4 linked regions of the Homo sapiens genome follow. The protein of the gene in region 3 interacts with the protein of the main gene of each other region in a biochemical or structural test. Each region holds a gene or a part of one and is shown on either strand. Other genes may lie near its edges. The genes, in order: RAD23A, DERL1, NGLY1 and RAD23B.

Region 1 (5,317 bases), on a different chromosome or scaffold from region 3:
GTACCCGGGCGTCACTGCCCTGATGGGCGGTTGGGAAGGCAAAACCTGCCCTGAAAAGCCTTTGGGTAGTGATTCTAGCCACTAAAGGCTTCCCACAGGAGGCTGGATGTGAGTGATGGGTGGGCCTCTGGAGGGCAGGGCCGAGGCCTCATCTGTGTCCTGCCAGGGCATGGAGGAGGGTGGCAGCAGGAGGTCTGTGCATTAGAACTAAACAGGACCCCTGACAGGGAATTCCTGGGAGCCCCGAGCCGGAACACGGTTCTGTCCAGGAGAGCCAGGTATCGGAGCAGCCGGCCACGGAAGCAGGTGGGTGTGCACATGCCGCATCTGCCCTCCAGGTACCTGACTCACATTACACTCCACCCCGCAGTGCTCCTAGGAGCCCGGCGTGGTGTCTGACTGCACCCCTTCCTACTACCAGCAGGAGAGAACCCCCTGGAGTTCCTGCGGGACCAGCCCCAGTTCCAGAACATGCGGCAGGTGATTCAGCAGAACCCTGCGCTGCTGCCCGCCCTGCTCCAGCAGCTGGGCCAGGAGAACCCTCAGCTTTTACAGGTGTGGTCCCAAGGGCAGAGGGAGCTAGGGCAGCCACCATTTCCCTTCCCTGTGGGCACCAGAGTCCATAACACGTAGGAATCGTTCTAGGTCCGGAAAGCAGGACTAAGCACATGCTTCCCCCACGCCCCTGTGCTTCCTGTGACCTGGTGACCCCCCTGGTTTCTCAGTCTTCCCAACCACCTTGTAAGGTGTGGGTGCTGTCAACATCACCTCCCACAGAAGAAGACACCGGAAACTTAGAGCAGCCTGTCATTCCCAGGGTCACGCAGCTGGTAGTGTGTGTGTCTGCCTCCTGCCTCGGGGTGGGGTCCTGGGCTGGGGCTCTGGCTTCACATACAGATGGTGCTGCGTAAATGTCTGTAAGGTGGCATGACGTCACCCAGGACAGCTGTGCCCCAGTTGGCTCTGGGACAACTCTGCTCAGTGAGGCTCCATCTTGCCCTTGAAGGTTCACAGGAAGAGTGGGGGAGTGGCCCCCTGGGTGCAAGTAGGTTCCTCTGGGTTCTCGGTGAAGTGCCTACCGGTCTTGGCTCAGGACCCTGCTGTCTGACCCTTCTCCTCTCACTTCTCAGTCCCTTGCCAGCTCCTCCTGGTCGGTCGTGTTCTTCATCTGCACTCAGCCCTCCCTCATAGTGTCCTGGGGCCTTCAGTCTGTATGGGAACCCCCAAATCTATGTAGCCAGCCCAGGCCTCTCTGAATGCCACACTCCATGGCTGGCTTAATTAACTCTCCATCAAAGTGCTCCCTAGACTAGACGTCTAAGACTTAGAACAGACCTCCCCAGTCCTCCCCGATCTCTGCAAGGATTAGCTTGGGGTTGCTTCAGCCCCAGGCCCTGGGGATCTGCTGGGGTCTACCCCTTGTCCTGTCTGCTCTTCCCACTCAGCCCCTCCCTGCACTCCAGCTCTCTGGTAGCCTCTTCCTGGGCCTCTGCCACTGCATAGTCCCACAGTCCACTTTTCAACCATGAGGCAGATGACTAAAAAGCACTTTCTTTTCTTTTTTTTTTTGAGAGGAAATCTCGCTCTGTCGCCCAGGCTGGAGTGCAATGGCGCAATCCCGGCTCACTGCAACCTCCGCCTCCCGGGTTCAAGCGATTCTTTTGCCCCCGCCCGAGTAGCTGGGACTACAGGCGCCCGCCACCACGCCTGACTAATTTTTTGTATTTTTAGTAGAGATGGGATTTCACCCTGTTAGCCAGGATGGTCTCAATCTCCTGACCTAATGATCTGCCCGCCTTGGCCTCCCAAAGTGCTGCAATTACAGGCATGAGCCATCACACCTGGCTGACTGAAAAGCACTTTCTTCTTTAATGTGAAAATGATCAGATGCATACAATGGTAGAGTTATATCAGAGCTTCCAGATACCCAGGTAGGGCACAGTGGCTCATGCCTGTAATCCCAGCACTTTGGGAGGCTAAGGCAGGCAGACCACTTGGTCAGGAGTTTTAGACCAGCCTGGCCAACATGGCAAAAACTCGTCTCTACTATAAATACAAAAAGTAGCTGAGCATGGCGGCAGGCCACTGTAGTCCCAGCTACTCAGGAGGTGGAGGCAGGAGAATCGCTTGAACCCAGGAGGCAGAAATTACAGTGAACCGAGATTGCCCCACTGCACTCCAGCCTGGGTGACAGAGTGAGAGTGTCTCAAAAAGAACAGAAACAAAAATGAACAAATGAACTTCCAGATACCTAAATCCAACACCCAGATGAGTTCACTTTTTTTGGTTTGGGGGCTGGTAGGTGGGAATAGAGACAGGGTCTATGTTGCCCAGGCTGGTTTTGAACTCTTGGGCCCAAGCAGTCCCTCCTGCCTTGCCTCCCAAATTGTTGAGGTTACAGGCGTGAGCCACCACACCCGGCCAAGTTCACCTTTCTAAAAGATCCACAGACCACGTCTTTTCCCATGTAACTGTCACCACCGTGGCTTCCCCCTGCTCTAGAAAATGGGTCTGACTTGGGCCTTCCTCTCTGGTGTCATTGTCTGCCTCCTCCCCCTTCCCTTGTTCGCTGTTTTTTGTTTTTTTTGTTGTTGTTGTTTGTTTGTTTTTGAGATGGAGTTTCGCTCTTGTTGCCCAGGCTGGAGTGCAGTGGCGTGATCTCAGCTCACCGTAACCTCCGCCTCCTGGGTTCAAGAGATTCTCCTGCCTCAGCCCCCAGAGTAGCTGGGATTACAGGCATGTGCCACCACGCCCTGCTAATTTTATATTTTTAGTAGAGATGGGATTTCTCCATGTTGGTCAGGCTGCTCTCAAACTCCTGACCTCAAGTGATCTGCCTGCCTCAGCCTCCCAAAGTACTGGGATTGCAGGCATGAGGCACCGTGCCCAGCCCCATTCACTCTGTTCCTGCTTCTGTTTCTGAGACTTCCCAGATGCATCCACCCTGGGCCTTTGCACTTGCTGTTTGCTTTACCTGGAGGAAACCCTCTGCATCCGCCATACTGCAGGCCTCTCCACCAGCCCTCATCTGCAGTTCCTTCCTAGCCAGACACTTGCAGTTGTCTGGTTCATTTATTGGCTCACTCACTTATTTTTTGAGAGTCTCTTGCCCAGGCTGGAGTGCAGTGGCACAGTCTCGGCTCCCTGCAACCTCTGCCTCCTGTGTTCAAGTGATTCTCCTACCTTAGCCTTCTTGAGTAGATGGGATTACAGGCACGTGCCATCACACCCAGCTAATTTTTGTATTTTAGTAGAGACGGAGTTTCACCATATTGGCCAGGCTGGTCTCGAACTCCAGGCTGGTCTAGAATCACCTGAAGTGATTATAGGTGTGAACCACTGCAGCCAGCCTATTTATGTATTTATTTATTCAAGACAGGGTCTTGCTCTGTTGCCCAGGCTGGAGTTCAGTGGCTTACTGCAGCCTCCGCCTCCTGGGTTCAGTCTTATGCCTCAGCCTGCCAAGTAGCTGGGATTACAGGCGTCTGCCACCACACCTGGCTACTTTTTGTATTCTTAGTAGAGATGGGGGTTCACCATGTTGGCCAGGCTGGACTCGAACTCCTGACCTCAAGTGATCCACCTGCCTCTGCCTCCCAAAGTGCTGGGATTACAGGTGTGAGCCACCGTGCCCGGCTTATTTCTTGGCTCACTTAAAAGCACATCATCAGCTCTTCCAGGGTAGGGCTTGTGTCGACTGCTATGTTGTGTTTGGCCAGAACAGGCTCCTCTGGATATTTGCCTGACTGAATGAAAAAGCAAGGGCTGTGATGACCTGGGGAGAGGAGGGGACCAGGGCTGTGAATTACCTTCCCTTCCCCACCCTCTCCTGCAGCAAATCAGCCGGCACCAGGAGCAGTTCATCCAGATGCTGAACGAGCCCCCTGGGGAGCTGGCGGACATCTCAGATGTGGAGGGGGAGGTGGGCGCCATAGGAGAGGAGGCCCCGCAGATGAACTACATCCAGGTGACGCCGCAGGAGAAAGAAGCTATAGAGAGGGTAAGAGGCCTGGCTGAGGGGTGACTGCAGGTGGGCAGGACCCCTACCCTCTCCTGCTCACACTTAACCTATCTTCCCACAGTTGAAGGCCCTGGGCTTCCCAGAGAGCCTGGTCATCCAGGCCTATTTCGCGTGTGAAAAAAATGAGAACTTGGCTGCCAACTTCCTCCTGAGTCAGAACTTTGATGACGAGTGATGCCAGGAAGCCAGGCCACCGAAGCCCCCACCCTACCCTTATTCCATGAAAGTTTTATAAAAGAAAAAATATATATATATTCATGTTTATTTAAGAAATGGAAAAAAAAATCAAAAATCTTAAAAAAACAAGCAAACAGTCCAGCTTCCTGTCCTCCTAAAGTGGCCCCTGTTCCCATCTCCCGGGCCAGACAGCTGTCCCCCCGTCCTCCTCCCCAGCCCAGCCTGCTCAGAGAAGCTGGCAGGACTGGGAGGCGACAGATGGGCCCCTCTTGGCCTCTGTCCCAGCTCTCTGCAGCCAGACGGAAAGGCGGCTGCTTGCCTCTCCATCCTCCGAAAAACCCCTGAGGACCCCCCCCCATCCTCTTCTAGGATGAGGGGAAGCTGGAGCCCCAACTTTGATCCTCCATTGGAGTGGCCCAAATCTTTCCATCTAGGGCAAGTCCTGAAAGGCCCAAGGCCCCCTCCCCAGTCTGGCCTTGGCCTCCAGCCTGGAGAAGGGCTAACATCAGCTCATTGTCAAGGCCACCCCCACCCCAGAACAGAACCGTGTCTCTGATAAAGGTTTTGAAGTGAATAAAGTTTTAAAAACTAGCCCTATGGTCTGTGCCTGCTGGGGCTCCCCGCGCCCACCTGTCTGGGTCTTGGGGGGCTGGCTGGGCACAGGCAGGCATGGTGACGGGTGCCTGGAAGGGGGAGAGGAGTCTGTGAGTCCCTGCAGATTGAGGCTTCCGGTGTCTCCTCCCCCAGTGTGTCATTTCCAGGCAGTGGACCCCAGCCCAACGTTACAAGGACTGCTTCTCCCCGGCCCCCACCATCATCACCACAGTCTGTTTTGGCTATACTTCCCCCCCCACCAGCCTTGTAATTGGCTAATTACTGGAGATGAATGTTGGTAAACAGAAGCCTTCTTCTCTTCTGCCATCTGCTTCTCCATTATTTGCCCATTGTACACCCCCCTTTTCCTCCCACTGAAGCCCCAGTTAGTCAGCAGGGCCTAGAGTCCCTGTCCCCTTTTGAGTACAGCCAAGTGGGGGATTCCCCAGCTCTTAAGTATTGGGGGAGGAACCAGGGGACCCAGAGAGGCACACCTTGAGAGGACGCAGATCTCTTCAGGGGTAC
Region 2 (7,036 bases), on a different chromosome or scaffold from region 3:
AGACCCTGTATCTACAAAAAATATAAAAATTAGCCAGGTGTGGTGGTGCATGCTGGTAGTCCCAGCTACTTGGGAGGCTGAGGTGGGAGAATCACCTGAGTCCAGGAGGTGGAGGTTGTAGTGAGCTAGGATCATGCCACTGCACTCCAGCCTGGGCATCAGAGCAAGATCCTATCTCGGGGGGGAAAAAAAAAATGTAAATCCAGAAAAACAAATGAATAAAGGAAATGCTCAGGTTTTTAAAACGTGAAAAGGTGCTTGACTTCTCATAATGCAAATAAAAATTAGTTTTCAGATTGGTGAATATATAATACATGAAATGGTGAGAGTATGGAGAGAAGACAGGATTCATCTACTTTTTAGGAGGAAGTATAAATTGAGCAAACATTTTTGTAGGCATTTGGCAGTATCTACCAAAATAAATGGTTATGTCTGTTGCTCTAGCAGATTTATTGACAGGAACTTATTCTGTATATGCACATATAAAGAGGATATACAAGAATATTCATTGTGGCATTGTAACAGTTTAAACAAAAGTTTAGACATTCACATACAAGGAATACTATGAAGCCAATTAAAATATTTTGTAGGGAATGAACCAAGGTATAAAACAGTGCCGTATAGAGTAGGATAAAGAAGAATGAGTAATAGTAACATGTATTTCTTAGAGGAAATACAAGACACTGATCAGCTGTTGTTGGGGAACTGGGAGACTGGAGGTTGGGAATGAGGCTTACTTGTTACTTTATTATTTAATTTATTTTAATTAAATTAAATTTAATTTTTTGAGACGGAGTTTCGCTCGTCACCCAGGCTGGAGTGTAGTGGCGCGATCTTGGCTTACTGCAACCTCCGCCTCCTGGGTTCAAGCGATTCTCCTGCCTCAGCCTCCCGAGTAGCTGAGATTACAGGCCCCCGCCACCTCACCTGGCTAATTTTTGTAATTTTATTGGAGACAGGGTTTCACCATGTTGGCCTGGCTGGTCTTGAACTTTTGACCTCAGGTGATCTGCCTGCCTCAGCTTCCTAAAGTGCTGGGATTACAGGCATGAGCCACCGAACCTGGCCTGCTTGTTACTTTAGACCCTTCTTATGTTTTGTTTGTTTTTTCAGGGAAATGTTTTTAAAGAAAAAGTGCCCCTATTGCCTATTTAGTGCATTGGTTTGAATAAAAAATTGTTGTTTTACTTCTGCCTTTGAATGTGGCATTTTTGGACAAGGTTTGTCATTCCAGAATATTCTTTCCCTAAATAGAGGCATTACTGTACTGTTGGAAATTAAGCCTTTGTAATTCATTTTTTGATGTAGGCTTAATTGTATGCCTGATCTCAGCAAAGACTAACCATATACTCATATAGTATTGATTTTGTTTCAACTTGTTTAGAAATATTTGTTGCTTATTTTATGATGTCGTTTTATTCCATTGATTTGCAAAGTGATGTGATTGTATTTGGTGTGAACACTTTTCTTCAGTTGTTTTCTTGAGTTGTGTTGGTAGGATCACTTTCACACCTCTCATTGAGGAGGATGCTTTGTTAATTTTGTTTAGTTAGAAGGGAAAGAAATAACCAGGCTTACAGAAACTAACAGCTGTGTTTATTTTGATCTGGACAGATTTGGAGGCCAATCACTGCCACCTTTTATTTCCCTGTGGGTCCAGGAACTGGATTTCTTTATTTGGTCAATTTATATTTCTTATATCAGTATTCTACGCGACTTGAAACAGGTATGTTACCCATAGTTGTTTTAAGCATTGTTTCTTTCTCATTTACTAATCCATGTGTTTACTTTGGAGGAATTTGGAGGGCAGTTAGCATTACAAAAAGAAACTGCATAAAGATAGTAAATGCTTAGTGACTGTGCCAGGACTGCACCAGGCACTTAGCTTACTCAATTTTTAATCCTCACAACATCCTGAGGTATAAGTAGCAGTGTTACCATTTTATAGATGCAAAAAGTAGCAGATCAGAGGTTGACATGGCTTGTCCATCTCCTTAGTGGCTGAGCTGTGTGCCTTTCATTTATTTTGAGGGTCTCACTCATTTCTTTTGCAGCAGTCCTTGTCCTTCAGTGCAGAATTGGGCTGGAGTATATATGTCTCCTAGATTGGGGTTGAAAAACATCAATTTATGTAATTAAAAGCCTAGATTTATTCTCTAATTGAAAAACTCAACTCTAAAATACAGTATATAGCCAAGATTTAATAATATATGGTAGTTTATCAGGTATGAGTACCAATGTAATATTTTATTTTATTTATTTATTTATTTTTTGAGACAATCTTGCTCCGTTGCCCAGGCTGGAGTGCAGTGGTGCCATCTCAGTTCACTGTAGCCTCTGCCTCTCGGGTTCAAGCAATTCTCATGCCTCAGCCTCCTGAGTAGCTGAGATTACAGACACCTGCCACCATACCCGGCTAATTTTTATATTTTTAGTAGAGATGGGGTTTTACCCTGTTGGCCAGGCTGGTCTCAAACTCCTGACCTCAAGTGATCTGTCTGCCTCAGCCTCCCAAAGTGCTGGGATTACAGGTGTGAGTCAACGTGCCCAGCCAACCTATGTAATATTATGGATAAGTTCGAAAAATCTTTTCGTAAAAGTGTCTTACTGAATTGTCATTTATTTCCTACAATACCTTATATGCTGTCTGAGTCACTTATACTAAAGAAACAATACATCAATACACTGTGTTACAATATGGATATAATTTTGTTAAATTTAAATGACTTTGAAAAGGCTGACTGACTTCAGAGACTTTATAAACTTGCTGGCTGTTACCTCAGGATAGAGAACTCTGAACTACCCTTAAGTGTATGTAAGTCAGTGCTCATATGGTTGAGAATTGCGAATCAGTCTCATCACTGCAGGGAAATAGTAGGATGGGTATTTGATGTCAAGTAACATTTTTCCTTAAATTGGCATTTGCTTTTAGGTTCTTTTTAAAAAGAAAGAAATTGTATTAATACAAAGTGTAAGGTCATAGACTATTATATTACTATTGGGAGGAACCTAGTTTATTTCCTGAGTTTTACCAAAAGATGAATAGGAGATTCAAGGAAGTAAAGTAACTTGGCAGAAATGAAACTGACAACTAGGCCTCTCACCACCATATTAGGGGTTTGATCTTTAAATCTACCAGAATATGTGATTTTTATTCTCCTTTGTTCCAGTTGGACCCATAATGATACTGAGTGCTTAGCAGTCTGCCTTTCTGGTATAACTTAATTGAGCATTAATTTGTTAGAGTAATTTTTTTTTTTTTTGAGACAGGGTCTTGCTCTGTCACCCAGACTGGAGTATAGTGGCACAGTCATGGCTCCCTGCAGCCTTGACTGCCGGGGTTCAAGTGATCTTCCCACCTTAGCCTCCCTAGTAGCTACAAGGATGGGTGTTAAACCGCCACACCTGGCTGACTTTTGTATTTTTTGTAGAGATGGGGTTTCACCATGTTGCCCAGCCTGGTCTTGAACTCCTGGGCTCAAGAGATTTGCCCACCTTGACCTCCCAAAGTGCTGGGATTACAGGCGTGAGCCACTGTGCCCAGCTGGAGTAATTATTTTATATTGATAGTAAACGTTATATCAATAGTAAAATAGATTAAGTGTGGATCATTTATGATCAGTTATTTAAAATTTTATTCTGGAAAATTTTCAAACATATGCAAAAGTGGAGGGAAAAGTCAATGAACCTTTTTTCTTTTTACTGAGACCAAATTCACATAACATAAAATTCATCATTTTAACCATTTTAAGGTGTACAATTCAGTGGTCTTTAGTATATTCACAATGTTATGCAGCCATCACCACAATCTAATTCCAGAACAGTTTCATCATTCCCTAAAAAAGCCAAAGCAGTCACTCTTTACCTCCCACTTTCCCTCCTCCCAGCCTTTGGCAACCACTAATCTACTTTCCGTGTATATGGATTTACCTATTCAGGACATTTCATATGTCCTTTGGTGACTGGCTTCTTTCACTTTGCACAATGTTTTTAAGGTTCATTCCTGTCATAGTGTGTGTCAGTACGAACCCCTCCTTAACCATCTAATGGTTATCACCTCTAATAGTTATCTCATAGCCAATCTTGTTTTATTTATATCTATTGCTGTCCTCCACCCCTGATTATTTGAAGCAAAATGCCAGGCATTTCATTTGTAAATATTTCAGAATTTAACTCTGAACTATAAGGACTTAAAACATAATTCTAATGCTATTATTAAACCTAAATTGCAATAATTCCATGGCCACTTTTTTTTTTTTTTTTTTTTGAGATACAGTTTCACTCTGTCACCCAGTCGGGGGAGTGCAGTAGCGTGATCTCAGCTCACTGCAACCTCTGCCTCCTGGGTTCAAGTGATTCTTGTGCCTCAGGCTCCCGAGTAGCTGGGATTACAGGTGCATGCCACCACATCTGGCTAATTTTTGTGTTTTTGGTAGAGATGGCATTTCGCCATGTTGGCCAGGCTGGTCTCAAACTCCTGACCTTAGGTAATCCACCTGCCTCAGCCTCCCAAAGTGCTGGGATTACAGGCGTGAGCCACTGCACCTGGCCAATGGCCACTTTTATTTTTAATTGCCTTCTTGTGCTTTGAATCCCTTTACCCAACCCTATTACCTGGTCAGGTAATACAACAAATTGTAATGTTATTCTCTCTGAATACCAATTTAGGACAAATTTGTGGGATTATTAGGTCACTGGTCTCTTTTATTTGCTTTGATTTTTATAAGTTGCCTCCTCATTCCCTACTCAACAACTACAGAGCATTTTGAAAGGCTTGAGCTGAGAGGCATTTTTTAACAGCTTTATTGAGATGTAATTCATGTACGGTACAACGTACCCATTTAAAGTATACACAATTCATTGGTTTTTAGTATATTGACAGAGTTGTACAGTCATTATCACACCCATTTTTATAATATTTCACCACCCCCAAAAGAAACCCTACCATTAGCAGCCATTCTCCCTTTTCATTCAATCCCTTCCTCCCCCACACCCTTAGGAGACCACTAAATTTTTTTTTTTTTTTTTTTTTTTTTTGAGACAGGGTCTCACTCTGTCGCCCAGGCTGGAGTGCAGTGGCACTGTCTTGGCTCTTTGCAACCTCTGCATCTCGAGTTCAAGCAATTCTCATGCCTCAGCCTCCTGAGTAGCTGGGACTACAGGCACGCACCACCACATCTGGCTAATTTTTGTATTTTTAGTAGACAGGTTTTCACCATGTTGGTCAGGCTGGTCTCAAACTCCTGACCTCAAGTGATTCGCCCACCTCAGCCTCCCAAAGTGCTGGTACTACAGGCGTGAGCCACTGTACCTGACCAAAACCACTGATCTTATTGACTCTTTAGATTTGCGTGTTCTGGGCATTTCTTAAAATCATACAGTATCTTGTTGCCTTTTGTGACTTATGTCTTTTACGTAGCATAATGTTTTCAAGATTCTTCCATATAGCCTGTATCAGTACTTCATTCCATTTTATTACCATTAAGATTCCATCGTATGGATATACCTCATTTTGTTTATTCAGTCATCAGTTGATAGACATTTGACTTGGTTTCATTTTTTGGCCATTGTGAATAATAGCTGCTATGAACGTGTAGAGAGGAACTTTTGAGATCATTCTATTTAACACTCTTATTTCATAGATAAGAAAACAGTGATCTAGAGTGGTGGTGACGTGTCCCAAAAGTTGCAGAGCTCTTTGAGTTAACGCAGTTAGGACTGGAACCCAGGTTCACTGATCCCCAGTTTTCTGTCAACCACACAGCTTTAAGTTAACATCTTGACAAAATGTTTGCCACCTGCACATTTTCCTGCCTGGCTAAATTGTTAGTTATATAGCAGAGTTGGCTTATTTGAGGTTTCTGATTTGAACTGGAAGACTGTAATTTGAAACCAGTTAATTTGTAAATTCTCAGTTGCAAGCATGTCAGATAATATAGTGCTGTAATTTATATGATTACAATATTTTAAGTACTCAGTCTAAAGACTCCTTAGGAATCAGACAGCCAAAGCCACATCAAAAGAAGCACAGCTATTATTAAAATCGGGAAATTGTGTTAGAATTTCAGCTGTGATTCATCATTGTGATCCTCTAGCATTAGGCCTGCTTAACACTGTGGCTGAAGTGTGCTTTGAGGTATCAAGGGAGAAATAAAGGAGAGTAGAAGACACTTTTGCTGGAAACCTATTTTCTTTTAATTATATCTTTTTGCCTTACTGACACTTGTTGGGTTTCTTTTTTTAAATTGACTAGCTGTATCATGTAACTGTGAGGGGGTGTGGAACGGGGAGGGAAAGTAACTTTCAAGCTAGAGTGATCTTACAGTCATTTCTGTTTCTTTTTTTTTTTTTCTTCTGTTAAAGTCTTCTAACTGAAGGCATTAGGAATTATGCTTACACGGGAGGCCGTTGTTGATTATTCTGCCCAATAAGGCATATGGCGCAGTGACAGGAGCACTGTGCTAGTAATTTGATGTCACTCTGGTTCTAACAAGCTCTGTGACTTTGGTCATGTGACTTTAACTCTGCATCTGTAAGAAGCAGGTCGTAGGTCTTTCCATTCTCCCTTCCAGATGCAGTATGAGGACTGAGTCAGAGGCTATGGAAAGGTTTGGCTGACGCTTTATTCCCTCCTTCCCCCACATTGTTTTCCCTTGGTAGAATGTACGTCTCTGGAAGACAGAGACTTTCTTTTTCAGTATCTAAGGCCAGTGTGGTACAGGTGGTTGTGTGTGTGTATGTGTGTTTCTAATAATAATGGTAAGTACCTCCCAGCATAGCCATGCTGGAGGAGACACAATGGAGACAAAACAGGCATGGTTCCTCCTCTGACAGAACTTAACGGTCTAGTGGAGGAGGACAGGGATCAAGCATGTAATCCAGAATGCGGCCATCAGGTCATGGCGAGAGCCAAGAAGGAAAGGCTGACAGGCTGGGAGGGAGCTTGGGGGGCCTCACTGGTCTTTGGGATACAGGGCTCAGAAGCTGTGGAATTGACTGTACTTTCTCTGGGTCTGTTTTAGCCTGTGGTAGTCAG
Region 3 (7,945 bases):
ACCCTCCTATTAAGACTTCCTAGGTTTGCCTTAAATTCTTTGTAATCTGATTCAAAACTATCTTTCCAATTATGGCTCCCATTCTCTATTAAATGAGCTTGCCACCCAGCAAACTGATTTTCTCACTATACATGTCTTGATTGACCCTAACTTTTCTCATCTCTGTGCTTTTGCTATTTTCAACAACCACTCATTTTCTTCCTATCAATGCTTGAAGTTTGAATGCAAAAATGAGTAGAGGTATGGCTCTTGCTTTCAAGAAGTTTATGGTCTAGTAAAGGGAGACACCCATAGAAACAAGTAAGTGCAAACTGTTGAAACAGGTGCTATAGTGGAATTATTATAACACAAAAGGGACAATGAGGTCTGTGCTACCTCGTAAAGTCAGAAAAGGCTTCAGAGAAATGATCCTTGAACTGCATCTTGGAAATGAATGTTTGTCTAGTAAATTGGGTGGGAAAGGGCATCCTGGCAGGAGGAGAACAAAGGCCTGGAGAAATGAAGTGTCATGGTATCTTCCACAAACAGCTAAATATGTGGCCCATGTCAAATTTGAAGTGTGGGACAAAGCAACAGTAAACGCATGAGAGTAAGGCAGGGCCCAGATCACAAAAGCCTGGGGTATCATACTGAGGACTTTGGATTTAATCCCGTAGTTCAGAGACCATATGCTAGCCTTCATGGTATAATTTGGAGTGCAACATTCTTTTATTGATTCTAAACTCCTCTAGAAAGGACATGGTAAACTCTCTCATTCCCTTCACTGGAGTCTCTCTTACTCCTCTTTGTCTTGAACAAAGCCACTTAAAATATTTAACTTACCAGCCTGGTTCCTGACACCATTTGACTTTAGAATGTGGATAGAGGGAGCCATAGAAAACTTTTTACCAGGAGAACAACATGATCAGATGGGTGCTTTAGAAAGATCACTATTGCACAAATGAGCAGGGTGGGTTGGAAGGATGTGGAAATGGACACAGGGAAGAAAGTTAAGAATGGATGAAACACGAGGCTCTGAAGGCAATGGCAAGGAGAGATCCAGGAGATGTTGAGAAGGAAACGTTACTAGGATATTGTACATGATTTAAGGAGGGTGGGGAGTCTCTCACAGGTAGCAAGTCCTCTCCTTTCTCACCTTCTCAACCTCTCAATTTAAGGCTTCTGTTCAAGTTGTCCCCCCTCACTGAAACTGCAGCCCACAGTGAAATTTTCCTCCCTCTAAACTAGTAGTTCTCAAAGTTTACTGTTAATCAAAATCACCTGAAGGGCTTGTTACCACACAGATTGCTGGGTCCCACCTTTAAATGTGGAGCTTCAGAATTTGTTTTTCTGACAAGTTTCCTGCTGATGCTGCTGTTGCTTGTCCAACCACTGCTCTAAACTTATGACTTCTATGAAAGTAGGGACCATACTTGTCTCCTTCACAGTGCTGAGCAACTAGTAGTCACTTCATAAATACATGATGAATGAATGAATTATGGAATGAATAAATCAACATTTATCCTTACATTTGATAGTACACATGCACTTTTTGTGCATTTCTCACCAAATGACTTTTGCGAAAACCAATGCCATAGCATTAATATTGTGATAACAATGTACAGTCCATAAAATCATGGAAATCACCATTTTAAAAAAATCATCTGAAATTTAAGTCCTTCCAAATAACTCTTTAGCAACACTTCTGTTAAAGTTCTTGAGTAACTGTAATCTCTTTTGAATATTGCCATTTATAAAGCTATTAAGGGAATCCATTATATAAAGGGACTTGGTCTCTCATTTTCCTGGCTGCTTCCCCCACTTCAGTCAAGTTGGAGATATTCTAATTCTTCCATTTCCTTTAGAAAAGCTGAATAAGCTACCCTAACTTTTATACCCATCGTTGTTTCAAACAACCAAAGAATGGGTACTAAATCAGCATTGAAATTCTTGTTCTTTTATTTATTTATTTTTGTTCCAAAATAAAGATTTTTTTTTTCCCCAGGATTTCACCTTTATTAAAAACATCATTTTTAGAGTTGACATATCATGGCGCTATTCTTTTTTTTTTTTGAGGTAGAGTCCCGCTCTGTCACCCAGGCTGGAGTGCAGTAGGGCAACCTCAGCTCACTGCAACCTCTGCCTCCTGGGTTCAAGCGATTCTCCTGCCTCTCAGCCTCCCAAGTAGCTGGGACTCCAGGTGTGCACTAACACGCCTGGCTAACACTATTCTTTAATAAAACAAAAAAGAAAGAACTCTGTAAATTTTCCCCACGATTGGTTTGGTGATATTAAAAAGTTAACCTCCATAAAAACCATTAGCAAGGGGAGGAGTTGAAGTCTTTCAGGAATTTGTATAGTGATTCACTATTGTGTGACTACATTGAGTGATTAACCAACAACTCTATTCAGTACCTGCTGTGTGCAAAGCAGTCTGAGACAGATGGCACAAGAGACTTTTAATCAAATAGGGAAGACAAAACTAATGATAACTTACAGTGAGATAGCGTTTTAGTTGAGGAAACAAACTATTATGAAGAGAAAAACAAAAGTCATTTTGTTCCCCCACAAAAGTACCCTATGACCATTCTATCTGTCAGGGGAAAGCCTTAGCTGACAGCTTTCTGCCCTTCACTTGACACCTCTGCTTCAATACCAGAGCATTTCCACTTTGGTGTTTTGTATATAGACAATCTTCCTATGTTTTTGTTTTTGTTTTTTTTTTGTAGAGATGGGGTCTTGCCATGTTGCCCAGGCTGGTCTTGAACTCCTGGGCTCAAGCGATCCACCTACCTCGGCCTCCCAAAGTATTGGGATTACAGGCGTGAGCCACCATGTCCAGCCCCTAAAATTTTATTTGAAAAAAAAAAAAAAGTTCTGTTGCATTTTTAAAAGTTACAAGTACTGTATAATATATACTATTCTCATATAATTAGTAAAGGATAAATAAATGTATCAATGGAAAAAGAAACCCAAATTAAGAGGAATAAAGTTTGTGATAGCTATATCTCCAGACCCAAGCCCCCAATCCATTGTGTAGTTGGACGAGACTACATTTCCCAGACTCTCCCCTTTTATCTTTTTATGTGTTTTTAAATTTTTTTTTTATTTTTTGTAAATCTGGCCTTACTGAAATACCCCCTTTTATCTTGATGAGGCCTCATTCTTAGTAATGATATGGTAGAGAAAATGCTGTGTGTCATTTCTGGGCTCATGTGGTTAAAAGTAGGTGTGACTTTTTTTTTTTTTTTTTTTTTTTTGTCCAAGCAGGCTGCCTGGATTTGTAAATAAAATTTCACTAGAACATAACCATGCCCATTTATTTTCAAGTATTGTCTGTGGAGCAACAGCTGCAGAGGCAGAGTTAAATAGTTGAGACAGACCTTATGGCTCACAAAGCCTAAAACACTATGTGGCCCTTTACAGAAAATGTTTCTTGACCCCTGTTCTAAGGTATGGAAGGAGACTGGGTCCACTGACATTATGACACCTGCATTATTAAAGTGTTATATGAGCCAGAAAGAAATTACTCTTGTGTTAAGCCCCTGAAAATTTTAGTTACAGACGGTAGTAACATACTACTATCTGTTGAACACACCATACTTGGAAGGTGGTCCAAAGATTTACATATTTATTAAAAGCGTACGTATATTTGGGAGACGAATAGTCATTGAACTGGATGTCATAGCTTAGGGTCTTGTTCGGAGATTCTGGAAGAAAATTTCAATTCTTAAAAGTAAACAGATGAAACATCAAGAAATTTAAAAGAGGTTATTCAGGCAAATCACTTATCTTAAGAAATAAAGTCAAGAAAAATACTTCGTGAGGTTGAAAAGGAATTTCTGCAAAGAAGGAAGCCACTGGTAAAGTACACTTTCAAGAACATGGTGGGGAAGAGACTGGATTAAAGTAGTAAGGGATGCATCTTCTAAGAGGAATAAAAGACCTTGATCACATGATCTACCTAAAAAACAAGTCACAAAATATTACTTACCCTTACTGTGTGGGATGCAAATTTTTATTCCCTTCCCGCCCCCGACATTCTATAATATTGCGTAATTATTATGCATGTGTTTTACGCTGGTCACCACGCGGTAAACCGAATCCACAACCCATTATTATGTCGCAACCTATGGTTTAAAAATACACTTCCTTACAGAGGAATCATATACTAGTTGAGCTGGAACTTAGATTTTCAGTCATTAGCCAAATTCTGAAAAGAATCCATATAACAAACCCAGCAGAGTTTATAGCCATGGTTTTGTTTTTGACGTTTGTTGCTCCTTCCTTCTGTAGTCTTTCATCCACATCTATGTAGAACGTCCTGACAATCTGCGAAGAGAAGGCTCTAAGGTGGTTTTATTTGTGGGGAAAGGAGGGAGGTACATGCGGTTTCTCCACCTTAATAGCTGGATCAATTAGGCTGGCCCCGGAGCGCAAAGGGATCCGGGTTTCTGAGAGGCACGTGCCAGCACCATTCGCCCGATACCTCTAGACCAAAGCCGGCCTCCCCTCCAGCCGAGCTCCTCCGTCCTAAAGGACTCGACATCCCCCTCCTCCAGGCCCACACCCCTCAGCCCCGGAGCCCAGGCCCCGCCTCTCCCTGCGGAACCCCTTCCCAACCTGTACGACCAGGCCCCAACTCTGGGTCGAAGCACCTCGCCCCTGCCGGCCGAGGCCCCCCACCTTCTTCCGAACAGCCCCTTGCCCCCCGCGAAGGGGCAGCCGTAGCTCCCAGCCGAGCTCCCCCGCTCCTGGCCCCGGTCCCCGACCCCGCCCCAGGCCCCCGACCCCGCCCCTGCCGGCCGAAGACCCCGCCCCTGCCGGCCGAGGACCCCGCCCCTGCCGGCCGAGGACCCCGCCCCTGCCGGCCGAGGACCCCGCCCCTGCCGGCCGAGGACCCCGCCCCTGCCGGTGGCTGCGGTAGCTGCTGCGCGCTGAGGCGCCTGCTCAGTGTGGGACGCGGAGAGCGAGGGGCGGCGGCGGCGCCCGCTGGCGCTCAAGCATGGCGGCGGCGGCATTGGGCAGCTCCTCAGGCTCGGCGTCCCCGGCCGTGGCTGAGCTCTGCCAGAACACCCCGGAGACCTTTTTGGAGGCCTCCAAGCTGCTGCTCACCTATGCTGACAACATCCTCAGGTGCAGGGCAACGGGGTCGGACGGCGGGTACCGGGGTGGGTGGGCCGCGGCACCTTGTTCGGCCAGGGACTGGGGCGTCCGGCCTGAGCTTCAGAGGGCAGCGACGCCCGGACAGACCGGGACCTGGAGCTGGTTCTGCTCCTAACGTCCGAGCCCGCCGGCCAGGGGCCTCGGGACCCGGCCAAGTCCCACCCCCGCTCGAGAAAAGGAAGTTTCTTTGCAGTTGTGACTTGGCACCTGCAGTCAGGGTGCTGCGGGTGAACTGGAGTCCCGGAAGCGGGGCCGGGCGGAGGAGAGGTAGGAAGGCGTGCTTCAGACACTGCCGCTCTTCTCGTCGTTTAACGGCCTCAGATATCGGGACACAACGGTAACCGCACCGCGCGTGTCATTCCCCCTGCGTGCATTTTTCGAGCGGAGTGGCTTACATTTCCACATACTTATCAGAAGTTACTCACTGACAAAGTGATGTTTTCTTCCCATGTTGAGACTATCCGAGTACTAAAGCATAATGCTTCTGAAGTGGTGGGTTTTAAAATTTTTAATTTTTTTTCTGCCCACTTTTGTTGATTGAAACATTATAGTATTTTGAAGTTACAGTTTTTATATTAATACCTGGATTCTACTATGTAACATAACCCTTTAAGAATTCGTGGAGGTAATCGCCTTGGATGAGAGTAATTTCCTTCATTCTCCTGTCAGCAAAATTGCACTTCTAGAGGTCTAAGGGACCTTGCAGATTTTGGGAATTGGGAGGCAAGTTTGATTATTCATTTTGAATAAGTACCCACCTCAACTCTTCAGATCAAATGATCTGAAGGGACATGGTGTGGGGGGGTAGGGAAATGGAACTGAGGTTAAAGGAGAGCCACTTGCTTTAGGGGTGTTACCTCATTTATCAGGTCACCGTGATTAATTAGGTTCTCTGTTCCCCTCAGCCCCTGGTGCATTAAGTGTTTGGTATATTGTCATGAAGTCTAAAAGGAAATTCTCAGTTTCAAGGTTATAGGTTTCACGTGACCCAATTTTAGACATTAGTTACATGTGCAGTTTTTAAAATCCATGTCAGTAATATTTCATTTAGGCAATGGTAATGATTTTTAAAGTAAATTGAAGGGAAAATATATTGAGCCCTTATTTTGTGGCAGATGCTATGAAAGATGCAACATGTGGCCTGTTCACAGCTACATAATTGTGACCTGTGTGGGGACCACCTTCGTGCTCTGTGACACCTTCTCAACTCACCTTTTTTACTCTTTGAGGCCTTACAGCTCTTCACAGTACAAGGATGCCAAGGGACTCCATAAATGAACTGATAGGCTGGGTTCTCCAGAGCCCATTAGCTGAGACTTACCACCTGGAAAGCCACCAGGCTATTTAAAACCCCACTAGTCAGAAAAGAGAGGTGGCCTTGTAATGAAGCCTCACTTCTGCTTTAAATCTAGTGAAACCCAAAATGCTGAGGTTTAGTATGAGGGGGAAACCTTTGCATGCAAATAATGACATTTAGCATCATAATCTTCATTATGAATGTTTACTAATGGCTCGTTGCTGATTTTCGTTTTTGAGACGGAGTTTGCTCTTGTTGATGAGGCTGGAGTGCAGTGGCGCGATCTTGACTCACTGCAACCTCCGCCTCACAGCTTCAAGATTCTGAAAGATGAGGGGTGTGACAATGAGCGCAAAGGATAGTGGACACACTGGAATAATGCTGAGAAATTAAGAGTTTAAGAAAGTCTTTGTGCGTTGCTTTTCCAAGGATAGGAAAGAGGATATGATGGGTTTGAAGTCTAATGTCCCTACAGCCCTCTAAGTCTTTGAGGGCTTTAGGGTCAGGCCTTTGGTATCAGTCTATACACAAAACCACGGTCAGTTTACTCAACATACTTAATAAGAAAAAGAATTTGAGGAACTGGATGTGACTGTCATTGCTGGAGCCTGTTTGCAGTATACTTTTACTGAGAAAAATAGATTAATGTGAGGTCCAGAGATGATATAAAAATAAAATTGCTCACTGGGCACGGTGGCTCACACCTGTAACCCCAGCACTGTGGGAGGCCAAGGTGGGCGGATTGCTTGAGCTTAGGAGTTTGAGACCAGCCTGGGCAACATGGCTAAACCCCGTCTCTACAAAAAAATTAAAAAATTAGCCAAGCGTGGTGGCAGACACCTGTAGTCCCAGCTACTTGGAGGGCAGAGGTGGGAGGATGGCTTGAGCCCATAATCATGCCACTGCATTCTAGCTTTGATGGCGAAGTGAGACCTTTCTCAAAAAAGAAAAAAAAAATGCTCACTAGAAACTAAAGAGGAAAATCTATATTGTATATCAATAGTTAAATGGTAACAACATATATCAAAATAACAAAGGCCAGTCGAAGTGGCTCCAACCTGTAGTACCAGGGCTTTAGGACACCCCAGGTAGAAGGATTGCAGCCGGGGCAACACAGTGAGACCCCATCTCTTAATAAAAAAAAAAAATAGCCAGGCGTGGTGGCTCACCTGTAGTCCTAGCTACTTCAGAGGCTGAGGCAGAGGATTGTTGAGCCCAGGAGTTCTAAGCAGCAATGAGCTTTGATGGCGTCATTGCACTCTAGCCGGGGTGACAGAGCAACACTTTGTTTTTTAAAAAACAAAACAAAAACTATATGAGAACTGATGTGTATTTTATAAGAATTTTTAAACAATTGTGAAAGCAGGAAGAAACTAGAAAATTAGCCCAGAGAAAGACCCAGCATGTAGAGATCTGAAAGCTGTGAGGAAAAGAATAGATTAAAATAGCTCAAGCAGTTTTGAACCAGTAGGATATATCATCCTGGTGGTACTGACATGTTTA
Region 4 (4,447 bases), on a different chromosome or scaffold from region 3:
GGTTATTTCCAAATATAATCTGACACAGCAGTCTTTAACCTTTTTGGCACCAGGGACCAGTTACGTAGAAGACCTTTTTTTCTACCAACATAGGTGGGGTGGGCGCAGTGATTTTGGGATGAAACTGTTCCACCTCCGATCATCAGGCGTTAGTTAGGTTAGGAAGTGGGGTGGGGCGGTGGTTTTGGGATGAAACTGTTTCATCTCACATCATCAGGCATTTGTTAGGCTATCATACGGAGCACAGACCCTAGATCCCTCTCATGCACAGTTCACAGTAGGGTTCATGCTCATATGAGAATCTAATGCCGCCACTGATACAACAGGAGACGGAGCTCAGGTGGTAATTCGAGTGATGGGGAGTGGCTGTAAATACAGATGAAGCTTCACTTGTTCGCCCACTGCTCACCTCCTCCCGTGCGGCCCAGTTCCTTGCTCACCCACTGCTCACCTGCTCCTGGGCAGCCCAGTTCCTAACAGGCCAATGGCTGGTGCCAGTTCACGGTCTTGGGGTTTGGGACCTGTGATCTAACTCAAGGTGATTGAGACAATTGAGGAGGGTGACATTTGGCTGAGTTTTTAAAGGCTTTTAAAAGGAGTGAGTATTGTCACAAGTGATTTTTAATATAATAGACTAGGAAAATGAAATTAAGTAGCTGGTATTACCATTTAAAATGCTGTAACTGTTAAGCAGATAAAAATAGAACATTATCTTCAAAATGTACCATGTATTACTAATAATTGGTCACCTGTTTTTCTAGTATGGAGTGTTGAATAAAGCAAGGAGATTGAGAGTGATGTTTGATCCAAATGAAAGACATGAGTTGACATTAATAAATAAAACATAATTTGCTTTTAATTTAGAAATAGGTGAGGTGGTTAAACTATACTGCAGGTACTCTCATCCTTATCTTCACTCTTAATATACTAAAAGCCATTTGATTTACATATTTCTGTAGAGTCATTTATTTTTAAACCATAGCAGTTAGCAGCTAATTTTTAATTAGGCCAAAGAGTATTTGCATAGTATCTATTAAGCTTTAACTAGAAACAAAGACTTTTTTAGGTGATTAGTAAAGGAAAGGGTCTAGATTCCATCTAATCCCTTGGGTTGGGCAGTAAATCCATATTGATAGAGATGAATTCATGTAAAATTCTCAAGAGCTTTTTTGGGTTGCAGTATGTTTTTGAGTAATGATTTATCTTTAGTGCTATGCTGGAATCTATAATATGTAAATAAAATTAAATGTGCCATAATTGGTGTGTTGGATTTATATTTTTTTCCTTTTTCTTCCAGTTAAAGGCATTAGGATTTCCTGAAGGACTTGTGATACAAGCGTATTTTGCTTGTGAGAAGAATGAGAATTTGGCTGCCAATTTTCTTCTACAGCAGAACTTTGATGAAGATTGAAAGGGACTTTTTTATATCTCACACTTCACACCAGTGCATTACACTAACTTGTTCACTGGATTGTCTGGGATGACTTGGGCTCATATCCACAATACTTGGTATAAGGTAGTAGATTGTTGGGGGTGGGGAGGGAGGGATCTAGGATACAGGGCAGGGATAAATACAGTGCATGTCTGCTTCAATTAGCAGATGCCGCAACTCCACACAGTGTGTAAAATATATACAACCAAAAATCAGCTTTTGCAGGTCTTTATTTCTTCTGTAAAACAGTAGGTAACTTTTCCTAGGTTTCACTCTTTTTAGTGTACTAGATCCAGAAACTTAGTGTAATGCCCTGCTTTATATTTCTTTGACTTAACATTGGTTTCAGAAAGAATCTTAGCTACCTAGAATTTACAGTCTCTGTTTCATGGCAACACTGGATAATGGCTTTGTGAAATTTAAAAAATTTTTGTAGCGACTGTAAACAGAAATGCCAAATTGATGGTTAATTGTTGCTGCTTCAAAAATAAGTATAAAATTAATATGTAAGGAAGCCCATTCTTTCATGTTAAATACTTGGGGTGGGAGGGGAGAAAGGGAACCTTTTCTTAAAATGAAAATAATTACTGCTATTTTAAAATTTCTTGATCATTGAATGTGAGACCCTTCTAACATGATTTGAGAAGCTGTACAAGTATAGGCAGAGTTATTTTCCTGTTTACATTTTTTTTTTGTTTTGGGGAAAAAATTGGTAGGTGTCTAATTACTGTTTACTTCATTGTTATATTGCAGTAAAAGTTTTAAAACAACCATTGCATGTTTGCTTTTGATGTATCCCTTTGTGAAATTAGCACTTTTGGGGCCAATGGAGAAATGCAGCATTCACTCTCCCTGTCTTTTCCCCTTCCCTCAGCAGAAACGTGTTTATCAGCAAGTCGTGAGTCAAACTGCTGCCTTTTAAAAAACCCACAAAATGCTGATTCAGTTCAAAATTAATGCAAATGTTTCAAAACTGGGTTTCTGATATTTGTAAATGTGTTTCTTTATTAGATAAGAGTGTATTACCATTAAAGTCATTAGTATAATATTGCTTTCAAAAAGAAATGGTAGACAAAACTATAATCCAGCATCTTTTATTGCATTGGAAAGACTGGCAAAGTCTTTTGGATGGGTTGGGAGATGTGGCTGGAAAGTACTTTGGAAAATATACAATCAAGATATCTCATGGCATATTAAAAGAAAAATCTTAATAGCAGTGTTGGCTTTTATTTGGATTTTTTCATCTCAGTTTTTTCTGTGGAATCTCCTTCATTGGCATTGTTATTTAATCATAAACGGGGCAGATGTCTACTTGTTCAGTTTTTCAAATCTGTTTTCCTGAGTATAAATAAGAGTATTTAAAGAAATAATTTGGATTGCTTTTGTTTTTTGTTTCCTTTTTTTTAACCATCTGATACTAAGAAGATGAATTTGCACAGATTTCTCTGCATAATTTCTCAATATCTTTAGCACAGTATGGTGATGATGACTTTTAAGCATTTACATCACGTACTCATAACCTATTATGAAAATAAATGAAACTGGCTGGGTATGGTGGCTCATGCCTATAATCCCAGCACTTTGGGAGGCCGAGGTGGGCAGATCACTTGAGGCCAGGAGATTGAGACCAGCCTGACCGTCATGGCGAAACCCCGTCTATACTAAAAATACAAAAAATAGCCAGGCATGGTGGCGCACGCCTGTGGTCCCAGCTACTTGGGAGGCTGAGGCATGAGAATTGCTTGAACCCGGGAAGTGAAGGTTGCCGTGAGCTGAGATCACACCACTGCCATAAACATGACAGGCTTTTGGACTTTGTATTACCTGTATGTTTTATAATGGATCATGCATAATTTCTCAGGAGAATAAAATGAGAATTCATATATACGTTCATCTTTCAAGTCAGAGCAATGAGTTGGGAAAAGAGGTGGCATTTCTGATCGGATAATGGAATACTCTCATTTATTTTATGACATTCTCTGTCTACTCAGATCATAGTGAAAACTGGAAACAAAAAAAAAAAACAGCCTCTTCTTGGAAAGTGACAGCAGAAGGTGGCATGGAGCTTGTGTCCTTGGACAACAAATCTGGATATACTAGGATTAATTATCAGAAGACAGCTCAGGCCAAGTTTTGATCGTTCCATACAGTACCTTGTTTATCTGCTTCTTAAAGAATCAGCCGAGACACCATAAAAGAAATAGGCTTTTTGTGCCTTTTGCTGTTAATGTTTAATTTACAAACTGTTTTGGTAAATCTCTTAATGTAAGTAGCTATTTGACTTTGGAATTTTGCATTCGAGGTATACTGTCATTTCTTGAAATCTTTTTCTCGTTTAGTTGCTCTGTGGGAAATGTGAGGAAGCCTAAGTTTGTATTTGTAAATTTCTTATGCCATCCTCTAGTCAAATTTTTTTTCATTGTTTAAAAATACGGAAGTGTTCCAATATAATTTTTTCCTGTACTGGATGGCTAGGATTCTAGAGAATTGATTATAAAATATTTTCAATACATCCAACATTGCACTTCTCATTTTTTAAATGATTCTGTCACGTAGAATCAGAATTGAAAGTTGACAATGCTTCTGTCACTGATACTTCTTTTTACTTCAGTAATTGGTGAGTGTATCATATAGGAGGCCCAGGCACTAGATTGACTTTATTGGGTCTCCTGGTTCTTTTCTCAACACAGAGATGGGATACTTGCTGGGATGTTAAGGTTAGTGAGGTCTTCTAGGGAATGCATAAAATTTCCATTGTTCCATACTTGTCTGAAGCAGCCAGCCAAAGCCTGCTGCAAAATGTTCTACCGAAAGTAAGCAATTGGAGGGAATGAGTGTTCCTGACCCAGTCAGTTCTGGTGGATTCTCCAGCCATGAAGTTCAGTTGGCCTCCCCCATCCATTTTCCCCATTTTTTCCCCCTAAGCCAAGGGCTGGCAAACTACAGCTTCATGAGCCAAATCTGGCATATACCTGTTATGTGGTCCATGAACTAAGAGTGATCTTTACATTTTTA

Evidence for each region.
Region 1: the proteins of NGLY1 (region 3) and RAD23A are reported together in a solved structure, tested with the Homo sapiens proteins (one study listed by BioGRID).
Region 2: the proteins of NGLY1 (region 3) and DERL1 form a complex in vitro, tested with the Homo sapiens proteins (one study listed by BioGRID).
Region 4: the proteins of NGLY1 (region 3) and RAD23B are reported together in a solved structure, tested with the Homo sapiens proteins (one study listed by BioGRID).

What each region holds. Positions count from the first base shown.
Region 1 is NC_000019.10:12,948,854-12,954,170, forward strand, and holds the end of RAD23A (UV excision repair protein RAD23 homolog A), read left to right. Parts: intron 1-227; coding exon 228-306; intron 307-421; coding exon 422-555; intron 556-3,835; coding exon 3,836-4,000; intron 4,001-4,082; coding exon 4,083-4,196; 3' UTR 4,197-4,789; downstream 4,790-5,317. UniProt on the Homo sapiens protein: Multiubiquitin chain receptor involved in modulation of proteasomal degradation. Binds to 'Lys-48'-linked polyubiquitin chains in a length-dependent manner and with a lower affinity to 'Lys-63'-linked polyubiquitin chains.
Region 2 is NC_000008.11:123,025,295-123,032,330, reverse strand, and holds part of DERL1 (derlin-1), read left to right. Parts: intron 1-1,574; exon of another isoform or gene 1,575-1,614; coding exon 1,615-1,726; exon of another isoform or gene 1,727-2,101; intron 2,102-6,558; exon of another isoform or gene 6,559-6,608; intron 6,609-7,036. UniProt on the Homo sapiens protein: Functional component of endoplasmic reticulum-associated degradation (ERAD) for misfolded lumenal proteins. Forms homotetramers which encircle a large channel traversing the endoplasmic reticulum (ER) membrane.
Region 3 is NC_000003.12:25,780,430-25,788,374, reverse strand, and holds the start of NGLY1 (peptide-N(4)-(N-acetyl-beta-glucosaminyl)asparagine amidase), read left to right. Parts: upstream 1-4,931; 5' UTR 4,932-4,984; coding exon 4,985-5,115; intron 5,116-5,502; exon of another isoform or gene 5,503-5,637; intron 5,638-7,945. UniProt on the Homo sapiens protein: Specifically deglycosylates the denatured form of N-linked glycoproteins in the cytoplasm and assists their proteasome-mediated degradation. Cleaves the beta-aspartyl-glucosamine (GlcNAc) of the glycan and the amide side chain of Asn, converting Asn to Asp.
Region 4 is NC_000009.12:107,328,246-107,332,692, forward strand, and holds the end of RAD23B (UV excision repair protein RAD23 homolog B), read left to right. Parts: intron 1-1,297; coding exon 1,298-1,411; 3' UTR 1,412-3,944; downstream 3,945-4,447. UniProt on the Homo sapiens protein: Multiubiquitin chain receptor involved in modulation of proteasomal degradation. Binds to polyubiquitin chains.